Linked DNA regions of Homo sapiens. The protein of the gene in region 2 interacts with the protein of the main gene of each other region in a biochemical or structural test. Each region holds a gene or a part of one and is shown on either strand. Other genes may lie near its edges.

What was found.
Region 1: the proteins of HNRNPC (region 2) and KPNA4 interact in a test that uses a peptide from one of them, tested with the Homo sapiens proteins (one study listed by BioGRID).
Region 3: the proteins of HNRNPC (region 2) and DHX9 form a complex in vitro, tested with the Homo sapiens proteins (one study listed by BioGRID).

The regions. Positions count from the first base shown.
Region 1 is NC_000003.12:160,559,072-160,562,571, forward strand, and holds part of KPNA4 (importin subunit alpha-3), read right to left. Parts: intron 1-3,500. UniProt on the Homo sapiens protein: Functions in nuclear protein import as an adapter protein for nuclear receptor KPNB1. Binds specifically and directly to substrates containing either a simple or bipartite NLS motif.
Region 2 is NC_000014.9:21,224,390-21,228,122, forward strand, and holds part of HNRNPC (heterogeneous nuclear ribonucleoproteins C1/C2), read right to left. Parts: intron 1-3,733. UniProt on the Homo sapiens protein: Binds pre-mRNA and nucleates the assembly of 40S hnRNP particles. Interacts with poly-U tracts in the 3'-UTR or 5'-UTR of mRNA and modulates the stability and the level of translation of bound mRNA molecules. Single HNRNPC tetramers bind 230-240 nucleotides.
Region 3 is NC_000001.11:182,880,667-182,884,399, reverse strand, and holds part of DHX9 (ATP-dependent RNA helicase A), read right to left. Parts: intron 3,137-3,733; coding exon 2,975-3,136; intron 2,881-2,974; coding exon 2,753-2,880; intron 1,262-2,752; coding exon 1,032-1,261; intron 881-1,031; coding exon 765-880; intron 1-764. UniProt on the Homo sapiens protein: Multifunctional ATP-dependent nucleic acid helicase that unwinds DNA and RNA in a 3' to 5' direction and that plays important roles in many processes, such as DNA replication, transcriptional activation, post-transcriptional RNA regulation, mRNA translation and RNA-mediated gene silencing.

The DNA.
Region 1 (3,500 bases), on a different chromosome or scaffold from region 2:
TGACCTAGCCACTTTTTTCATGGAACACTATTTTTACTTGAAAAAACGACTGACAGACAAATTATGGTTATTCAGACTTAATGGTTGGAAGATGTTTTCACAAAAATGAGCAAAGTGAGTCTATGGCTTCAACGATAACCATTTATAGCATTTATTGCTAATGATAAAATTTCAGCTTCCTCTGAACTTGTCCCAGAGGCATGGTAAAAAAAGAAAAAAAAATTGAGCTTCCCAGAGAAAGTTAGAATTTTAGAAAACTTGTATCCACTTCTGTGAACCTGACAGATTCTCAATACTTAAGATTTTTCTGAATTGTGTGGTTAACAATCATGAATTTTTTATTGAATAAAATATGTTAGCATTTGGAAGACGTGCATAACTCAGTGACATAATGTTTTCCAAATAATCCAATGCATGGTATTACAAAAAGCATCAGTAAAAGATGGGTAAATGTTACATCTGAAGTGCAAGACAGACCAATAGATTTTAATGTAACAGTGTAAGAAAAGTTCACTCATGTGGCTTCAGATTCTACATTGCAACTATCTTTAAGAAACTACCTCTTGCAGAATTACGGTGTAGTATCACTTAATCTCCATAATTATCCTGAAAAGCCTATGAAAACATAACATACTTTCCTTTTTCAACTGTCTGTCTGTGTGAAGGTGGACATTCTTCACACACTTCGACCAAAACAGTGTATCACAAAAGACTGAATGCAGAAACAGATGAGAATTCAGCTGTCTTAAGCCAAACATTAAGACCCGAAAAAAAGGTTCAACATGGCCATTCTTCTCATTATGTATTTTTGGTTTTGAAAAATGTCCTTATTTTATAGATATCAATATACAGTTCTCATATTAACCACAGAAAAAGGAAGAACTCCAACCCTGTCTTTTACCAAACCTAAATGAAAAGCACAGAAAACAAACTGTGTTTTCTAGTGTTTGAAAGTCTACAAGTGACCCACAATTTCCAAAAACCCTCTGAGAAAAAAAGAAAACATTTACTGAATACCTATTATACCCCGTGGACTATGCTCAGTGCTTTCACATAGAACCTTTTCATCAAATTTGAGACTGGCATTAAGGCTGAAAGAAGTCAAATGGAGGAAATATGGTAAAGTACAAAAAGAACAGACTCTGACACACCTGAATTAAAATCATTCCCTTAAATGTTATCTTATTAAATCAAAAGCACAAGAGTTTCTTCTTTAAAATTTCTTCTTTAAAATAAATTCAATATGTATAAGATTGAGAGAAATGTGAATACAGTTAAAAGCATATACAGTAGGTGCTCAGAAAGTTCCCTTCAGTCATATTCCTCTTTTCTGTTCCAAAACTAAATCAGCGAGTAAGTACCAAAATCAGAGATCAAGGTTAAATCTGATGACATGCTCTTGTTTCATTCATCATTATAGGCCTCAAATAGATGAATGCTACTCCAGAAAACATTTAAAAATATTTTAAGGACCCACAACCACTATCAGGTATTAGAAATCAATGTTTAAAAACTACCTTTGCATTTTTTTTTCTAAAGTAGCTTCATTCTTTGAAATCTAAATCACTCCTACAATTCTTCCCAATCTTGTACATTCATTTGACATACTTAGTGACTACGAAAAATAAGGGCATCTTGGTATCTCCAGGAAAACTATCAATGAAGCAATTCTCAAACTGGCTACCTTGTAAACCAGGAAAGTTGGCAAGAAGTACAGAAACAGTCATTTAATTCCTAACTATATTTCTATCAGATATTTCATATTGTCACATGCTTGGACTATTATGTGAAAAATTAGACAGTAGTTATTTTAAGTATAGTAAATATGTTCCAAGATTTGTGGTGAGAGAGATCAGTCTCTAAAAGTTAACAAGACTTAATACCTTAACAATGCTTTTCACTCTGTACACTTTAACAAATCACTGAGGCTCTTTCAAAACAACAAAACAGCTGATCAATTTATTAAACTCTTGCCAACCAAGCACCTTTTTTTAAAGTTCAAGCTGACTTCATATTTTATGTTTGTGTGGATAATCACAAGTTTCTAATTATGTAGCATTTTAATATTCTTTTATATTTAGGGTAAGTTGTTTTCTTAAAGTTGTGTTTTTAAAAGATCTAGTTATATTTTATGCTCTATTTGAACCTAGACACTCAGAACTTTCATAAAAAGTATGCAGGTTTATTAGGAAATCTACAAGAAAATTCCCCTCTACTTTAAAAAACATAAATTATATGAGCTTAATTTACTTTATCCTGACAAGTTTTTTATTTCAAGTTTGGTCACTACCCATTTCCTGTGTTGCACTGTATATACCCTCTTTTCTATGGTTACTATTCTCAAACTAAGACTGGGGATCTTCTACAACACTGTAAGAAGCAGCCACGCCATGGTGAATATCATCTGATAGTTCCTGATAATTATTTTAAATGGATACTGAACATATGCCTTCTTTGGTGCGTTTGTGTTTCAAGAAACTTAACATGACCACATTTTAGAGGAGTCAGAATGGTAGAGAGAGGTAGGAACAAATATCAGATTGAAATCTATGAATAACTTTCAACTCTAACACTCAGAAATTACAACTTTAAAAGGATCACTAATTTGGTGTGCCTAAACTGCCCTTCAATGAGCAGCTACATGTCTCTGTATTAAAACCTTTCCCTATTACTTGTTCAATGTAACAAGTTATACAAGCAGAGAGAAAAAACAGCCACTGAAAATAAGGGAGTAAGAGAATCAATTATACTGAATCTTGTTAAATCCCTTCCCTCCCCCAAAAAGAAAAGCTGAAGGTGATAAAACGCTCAGAGAATTGCCAGGCATCTTCCTAACATTACCTATTAATCTTCACAACACTCATGAAGCAGATGTCAAGTACCTCTAGTTTTACAGATGAAAGAACCATAAGACTAAGCGATTTTCCCCAAGGTCATACACAAAGTTAGAGATCAAATTAAACTAAACTCTAGGACTCTGTATTCTTCATCATTTCTAATCAAATAAACTGTTAGATCATAATATGCTACAATTACCTCTCCCTAAATGCTATACTCTGTACATGGGCTGTTCCAATAAGGTAGCCACTAACCACATGTGGCTATTAAGCACTTGAAATGCAGCTAGTCCAAGTGGAGGTATGCCATAACCGTAAAATACAAACTGGATTTTGAACGTATGAAAGGAATAATATGAAACGTCTCAATTATTTTACACAAATTAGATGTTGCATGGTATTTTGGATATACTGGATTAAGTTAAATTCACTGGTCCATACTTCTTTCTGAAGACTTCCCATGAAATAGATGTCATCATAAGATCCAAATCAAAAAGCAATTATTTTCTCAGAATTTGCTGTATTCTACAGACATTATGTAACACAATGTAGTAACCATATCTAAAGGGTGATTAAGTGTTTAGAGAGATACAGCATATATGTAAGTAGGCTGATAAGTGCTTAGAGAGATAGACCAGATATGTAAGTAACAAATACACAAAG
Region 2 (3,733 bases):
GCAAAATTGCTTGTCTCCTTGAAATTCTGACAGCACAAACTCTGTGAAACCCCCCTTCATGTAACCATTAATGGCATAATCTATCATCTAGTCACGAAGACAAAATCTCAGCTTTTGACTATTATTTTCCTACAAGCACCTACTTTCATACCTTTAGTCCAACCAATCACATCAAGACCAATCTACTTCAGAAATTCTCCCAACCTCCTCTCCATTCCAACATTTACAATGTTTACCATTTAACACATCTTTTTTCCTCTAGCCACAGGCCTGTTTCTAAAATACCATCTATAGGACACAATCCCAGAACATGTAATACAAAGCCCTTTACAACTAACATTCTTTACAATTTACTTTACAGCTGGCTGCTCCTCAAACACATCAAGGCCCCTCACAACTCAATCTTTGTTACATGTGTCATCTTTGACCTGTGAGTTCTTGAAGATTTGTCTATTTCTAATGCACTGACATATTAATATATTTAGCCATGGAGTAATAACAGCACTCTGAAAACCTCTAAGAATTTCATACTCGTTACTTATATACTGTATTACTAGTCATGCACCACATACAAAATGTGCTAAGTTTAAAAAGTCCTCAGAAAGACCATTGAACTAAACCAGTCTTTTTGAACCAGGTTTCTTGCTCACCAAGTCTCCGCTGTCATAATAAAGCCTGTTATCAAACCTGCCATTTATTGGCAGTTTCTATTTCGTGTTGCCCAAAGTTCTCCAAATAAGAATTAAAGAGGCCAGGAACGATGGCTCACATCTGTAATCCCAGCACTTTGGGAGGGCGAGGTGGGCAGATCACCTGAGGTCAGGAGTTTGAGACCAGTCTGGCCAACATGGTGAAACCCCGTCTCTACTAACAATACAAAAAAAAAAAAATTAGCCACGCATGGTGGCAGGCACCTGTAACCCCAGCTAATTGGGAGGCCGATGATGCACAAGAATTACTTGAACCTGGGAGGTGGAGGTTGCAGTGAGCCGAGATCGAGCCACTGCACTCCAGCCTGGGCAATAGAGCAAGACTCTGTCTCAAAAAAAGGAAAAAAAAAAACAGAGAGAGATGAGACGACTCAAGAAAAGAGCTGACAGTAAATCAGTCTCTATGAAGGCTAGCAAGATGTCCCACAATGACTGAGAGTTCTTTTAATTCTAAAAGGTGTCCATCCTCAGGCGTAAGAGTTACCTTTTGAGGCTGGTAGCACCAGACGGGTTTCATCTATGTCTCTAACTGGCAAGTATCCTGATGTAGGTAGGGTCCACGAGATATGACAAAAAAGAATGACTGTCCATAAGACAGTGATGTATCCTTTTTCAATTGTAATGTCGCATCCATTTTCAATCAAAACGTCATTCACATACCATAAAATTCACCATTTAAAAGGGTGCCACTCCGTGGTTTTTATTAGTTCTGCAATATCACCATTATCTAATTTGAGAACAATTTCATGGGTGATCAATTATAAGGGAAAGTGGGGTTCCAATTTATTACAATCTGAAGAAAATATATCTAGTTTATATCTAGATATAGTTTTAGTATGAAAACACTGCAGTATTTGTGGCACAAATCAGAAAACACATATAGATCAAGACTTTTATGAGAATTTTTTAAAGAATTATAAGAATAGTGCCAGGTTGGGCCAGGTGCAGTGGCTCATACCTGTAATCCCAGCACTTTGGGAGGCCAAGGTGGATGGATCATGAAGTCAGGTGAGGAGTTTGAGACCAGTCTGGCCAACATACTGAAACCCCATGTCTACTAAAAATACAAAAAATCAGCTGGGTGTGGTGGTGTGCACCTGTAATCCTAGCTACTCAGGAGGCTGAGGCAGGAGAATCTCGAGAACCTGGGAGGCGGAGGTTGCAGTGAACCGAGATCTGCACCACTGCACTCCAGCCCGGGAGACAGCACGAGACTCGTTTCCAAAAGAAAAAAAAAAAAAAAAAAGAAAGAAAGAATAGTACCAGGGTAGCTGTTGACGAACATCAATTTCATGTATATGCCAGCCTACCTAAGGACTTAAAGATCTATTTTTAGAGTACTTCCCAATCTCGCTTAATTCAACAACTACAGCTTTGAATACTTGTGCATTCCCAACATTGTGATAAAAATTCACTTTTATTACAACACCTTTCGCAAAACAAAACCAGCGCCTTCAAATGAATATTAAAAAGAGGGCCAGGCGTAGTGGTTCACACATGTCATCTCAGCACTTTGCGTGGCCAAGGCAGGGAGATCCCTTGAGCCCAGGCGGGTGGACCACCTGAGGTCAAGAGGTCAAAACCGGCCTGGCCAACGTGGACAAACACTGTCTCTACTGAAAATACAAAAATTAGTTGTGTGTGGTGGTGCACACCTGTAATCCCAGCTACCTGGGAGACTGAAGCAGGAGAGTCGCCTGAACCCAGGAGGCAGAGGTTGCAGTAAGCCAAGACCAACCCACTGCACTCCAGCCTGAGTGCCAGAAAAGACTCCATCTCAAAAAAAAAAAAAAAAAGGGGGGGGGGGGACAGTGATTTTTACTCCGATTTACATATGAAGACCCAGAGCTTTCACTCAGAGCCAATTTCCCATCTTCTTTGATTAAACAATTTAACATAGTCAATGAAGTATCGCTGTTACCATTTAAAATAAAAATCTAAACCTTATGATAATGAATCTTCAGAATGACTTCTTAGAAGATATTAATACCATTTTTCTAAGTTGTTATTCCACCAGGTCATACCCAACCTATTTCCCAGGTCCAAATTGACCTAACATTTTCCAAACCAGCAAAAAACTCCTGTATCTGCCCCTCTCCCCACTAAACAAACACTCCTCCTCCTTTCACCTTCATTAACATCTATCATGTAAGACACACACTCAATTCCTCAATTCTCCAACCCAACTTGAGTAAGTTCCCATCATGTGGACACCTCCTAAAATTCATTTTCCCAACAAAGATCTCAGTACTCTAAAAGTCAGCTCTTTGCCAGCTATTACCTAGTTGCTCCACTAGTTATCAGTAATCATTATCTACTGGCTGACGTTAGAACAATAGAAGACATTACTTTTCACTGACAATAACATGCAGCAATATATCCGACAGTAACTACTAGTATCGGCTGGTGCAAAAATAATTGCGGTTTTGCTTTTTACCGTTCAAAGAAATGTCAAAAACGGAATTACTTTTGCTCAAACCTAATATATTGTTGTCTATTGAAAATCTGAAGAGGCCACCAATTTCTGTGAAGATATTTCTGCAAACGTGATTTCTTTAGATTTCTCTGCAGTATATATCTCATTGTCTCAACTAATGTTTTCCAAATTCCCTGCTCAAATTTTCAAATTTCCCCATTCACAATGTGCCTTGCCAAGAAAAGACTTTTTAATGAGAACTATTTTCAAGAAGACTGTCACTGTATACTGCTAAAACTTGATACACTCATAAAAAACATCAACTAAGAGTCCATGACATCCCTGAAATTATACCAACAAAAGTGTGAGTTTATTAAACTGGTCTGAATTGAGCCATGACAAAGAAATAGGATAATAATACACAGAAACACAACCACGTCCTTAATCTTTTATTAATGATTCTCAACTCTGACTGGACAAAAGAACACATAGAAAGCACTGAAAAATATACTAGTACTTAAGAAAGTCTGCATAAGACCAGTTGTGTAAGAATCCCTATAGGAGAAGCTGGCATGAGTATATTTTAAATGTGGTCAAGCAATTACCA
Region 3 (3,733 bases), on a different chromosome or scaffold from region 2:
AGCTATGAGCAGGAGTCTTAAGCCAAAAAGTCTATCAAGCCAAATAAAATATAATAAAAATATATGCAATATATAATAAACAAAAAACAAAGTCCAGCAATATGGATCATTCAGACTTTCTTTTTTTTTGAGACAGAGTCTTGCTCTGTTGCCCTCGCTGGAGTGCAGTGGCGTGATAGCTCATTGCAACCTCCAACTCCCAGGTTCAAGTGATTCTCCTGCCTCAGCCTCCAGAATAGCTGGGACTACAGGTGTGCGCTACCACACGGGGCTAATTTTTTTGGATTTTTCGTAGAGACAGGTTTCACCATGTTGTCCAGGCTGATCTTGAACTTCCTGAGCCCAAGTGATGTGCCGCACCCAGCCAGATCATCCAGACTTTAAAATAATGAATTTAAGAGACCCAGAATACTGGCATTTTCTAGGTTTTCAAGAATATGATGGCTGAGCCTACTGGCTGTCCATTAAGCTCTATTCCATTTTTGCCCAGTGCTTACCACTAGTTTTGAATCAATATACAGAGTATGTGAAAGGGTACTCAAGCTTCACTTAGATTCTGATTCCATAGTGGTGGTGTGCCTAGTGGTAGACATGGCTCAAATTCCTAATGCATTTGCTTCTACTGGTATCAATTTAAGATTAAGTATATAGTATATAATTAAGTTAGATATAATTAGTATATAATTAAGTTAGATTAGCAGCTGAATTCCATCATATTGTAATTCTAAGAATTCAGTTTGGAGTTCACATCTGAAAATCCATACCAGTCATCTACAAGCACAATCTGCCCATCAGATTGGACTTTCTTGGAGGCAAAGAGAAGCAACTGCAGGGGGGTGACTAAAGTCATGCCTTTAGCAGAGATGGCTCGAGTTCGAATCTGCAAATGGAGAAAGAGACAATACAAAATGGTTGACATTCCAACTTCCAAATACCGCTATATACTGTGCTTTGAAAATCAAAATTCATGTTCCTAATGATTGTAAAGACAATTTCAACTTTCAATGTAAACTTTTCTAGTCTTTTCTTACCTTTTCACCAAATACAAAGAAGGGAGATGGGTACTTCATGTCTTGGCTACTAAAAGGACAATTAACAGATGATTTGTGGATAAGTGCATTACGCCCTTCAGTGGTGAGAATCTTCCTCTTTTCCTTATGATAGCATACATTGGGGTACACACCAAAGGCCAGGAGGGAGATAACAACATCCAAATTATTATCTGGTCCAGTGTTAGTAAACACTTGTGTCAACAAACAATCTGTTAAGAGGAGCACAGTGAAAACAAAAATCAGATAACTGGCTGATCTTCACATTACATGCAAACTATTTAAGATAATTCAGAGAACTGACTCTTCCTCACTCTTTTCACATAACCTGTCTGTAAAACTTTCTCTTCTCAGAATCCTTACACCCAGATTAAGTTCAAGGAGTAATGTTACTGAGTTTCCACAATAAGAAAACGAAAACGTCTCTATTCTCTTATAGACTCAACCATAAATAAGCTTGGGGTGATTACTTTTTTTTTTTTTTTTTGAGACGAGTCTCGCTCTGTCGCCCAGGCTGGAGTGCAGTGGCGCCATCTCTGCTCACTGCAAGCTCTGCCTCCCGGGTTCATGCCATTCTCCTGCCTCAGCCTCCCAAGTAGCTGGGACTACAGGCACCCGCCACCACGCCCGGCTAATTTTTTGTAGTTTTAGTAGAGACGGGTTTCACCGTGTTAGCCAGGATGGTCTCGATCTCCTGACCTCGTGATCCACCTGACTCGGCCTCCCAAAGCGCTGGGATTACAGGTGTGAGCCACTGCGCCCGGCCGGGGTGATTACTTTTTAAAGTCCCCCAATCAACCATCTACTCTGAGAATAAGAGCTTGACTGATAGGACCACAAAGTATTTATCTGCTACTCTTAAATAGCTGTTAGTTGTAGAGAAGATGGAGATAATCTAAGAGGACACCTACTGGAATGAAGGCTGACGTTTTTACCCAGTCTACACTTTGAGTACTTAGCTACTGACTGGAAAGCATGACAGTCAACCGCTGAAAGCACAGACATATTTTGTTCTAGACAAACGAGTTCTAGTCTTATAGCCTCCTAATTGGATGAATTAAAGACAATTTATACCTTGGTGCCTGTTTCATTACCTGTAAAATTCATCTCAAGATTCTAGCACATGAAGTTTTCCCTTTCTTATAATTTTGAGGAAAAACTAAAATTTCGGCTGGCTTATGACAGAAGAGAACCACTCACTACTTTGTTTAGTTATTCCAATTACAGCCTTTAAAAATTTACCATCTTGCCCAACTACCTTCTGTCTCTCAACAGTCTTATTTCTGGTTATGCATTCCAGTTCTCAATGTTTTAGGAAGTAATTCTATATTTTAACCTAGTTGGAAAAGAAAAGTACTACAGCTCATCAAGAAACATGGGTTGGTTTTTTTCTATGTTAGATGTCATAAAGTCCTTTAATCATCTGTACACCGAAAGTATAAATTAAAGTCATTTAAAATTTAATGTGGTAGAATTTACTTCAAGTCTAAATGCTAATAAATTACTTTGCAAACCACTATAAGGTTATCAGCAAAGTACTCATTCTGGGAACTAGACCAGTGTTCACGAGAACTAAGAAATAGTCGGGAATATATAAAAATCATAGGGTCTAAAATTTGAAACTAAAATACACTTTGCTGTCAATTTGCATGTACTATATAAATGTCACTTTAAAGATATCTTAAGAATGGAAGAAGTCTTACCTTCTGGAAACCCAGAATTAATCAAAATCTCTTTGAGCTGAACTTTGGCTTCCCAAGTCATTCTTAGTGTAGCCATATTAAGTCTTTTGTGCTCACAAAAACGTATCTCTGCTTCTTCTCCACCCATTCTAAAATAAATTGGCATGAGAAATCATTCTCTAAGACCAGAGAACTAAATACAAATGAGAAACTACAGACAGCTCACCCAAATCTTACTCATACCTAGCATCATCCCAGGCTTGGAATACTGATAAAAGGGCTACGTGATCAGAAAATCTGTTTCCAGCAAAATTTCGATGGATATAGCCCAGCCGCTTTCCTTCATTGATGAAAGGCTCTGGAAAGCAGGTAGCAGCAGCAATGGTACAGATAGCATCTCCCACGCTGAAATACACAAAGACAGTTAAATCCAGACTAGATCACAATGTTGTTGCCAGCAGCTCAGGTAGGACTGTCGACTGTGGGTTGCAGTCTTTATGGCTATGATTCTACTTTTATTTGCAATGAAACTGGCTTAACAAAGAACTTTATAGCTGCTCTCTTCAGAATCAGAAAGAAAAAAATGCTCTGATGCTCTAATGGCCACATATTTATCATAAATTATGACCAAGTATATTTTTCCTTTTATATTCTCTCTTCCCCATCATACCAAATCTCTTAATCTTCAACATTTTCTGATAAAATAAACCTCTTTTCCTGACACCGCTCTTTCAAGACCAACTATTAATAACAAGGGACCCTCCCACCCTGGCCTCCCAAAGTGCTAGGATTCAAGGTGTGAGCCACATTGCCTGGCCTGCTTGCTTTTAACTTTTGAGAAATCAGTGCCCTTTTCCCCATATTGGGCCCAGATATCCACCTACTGGAACTGTTCATTTTTTTAGTGTTACACTGCTCTCAATATCTAGGTATGTTACTTCCCTGAAGAACATTTAGGATTTTTTTTTTGTCTATCTGAGCCAATACTGCTTTTACAGGGAG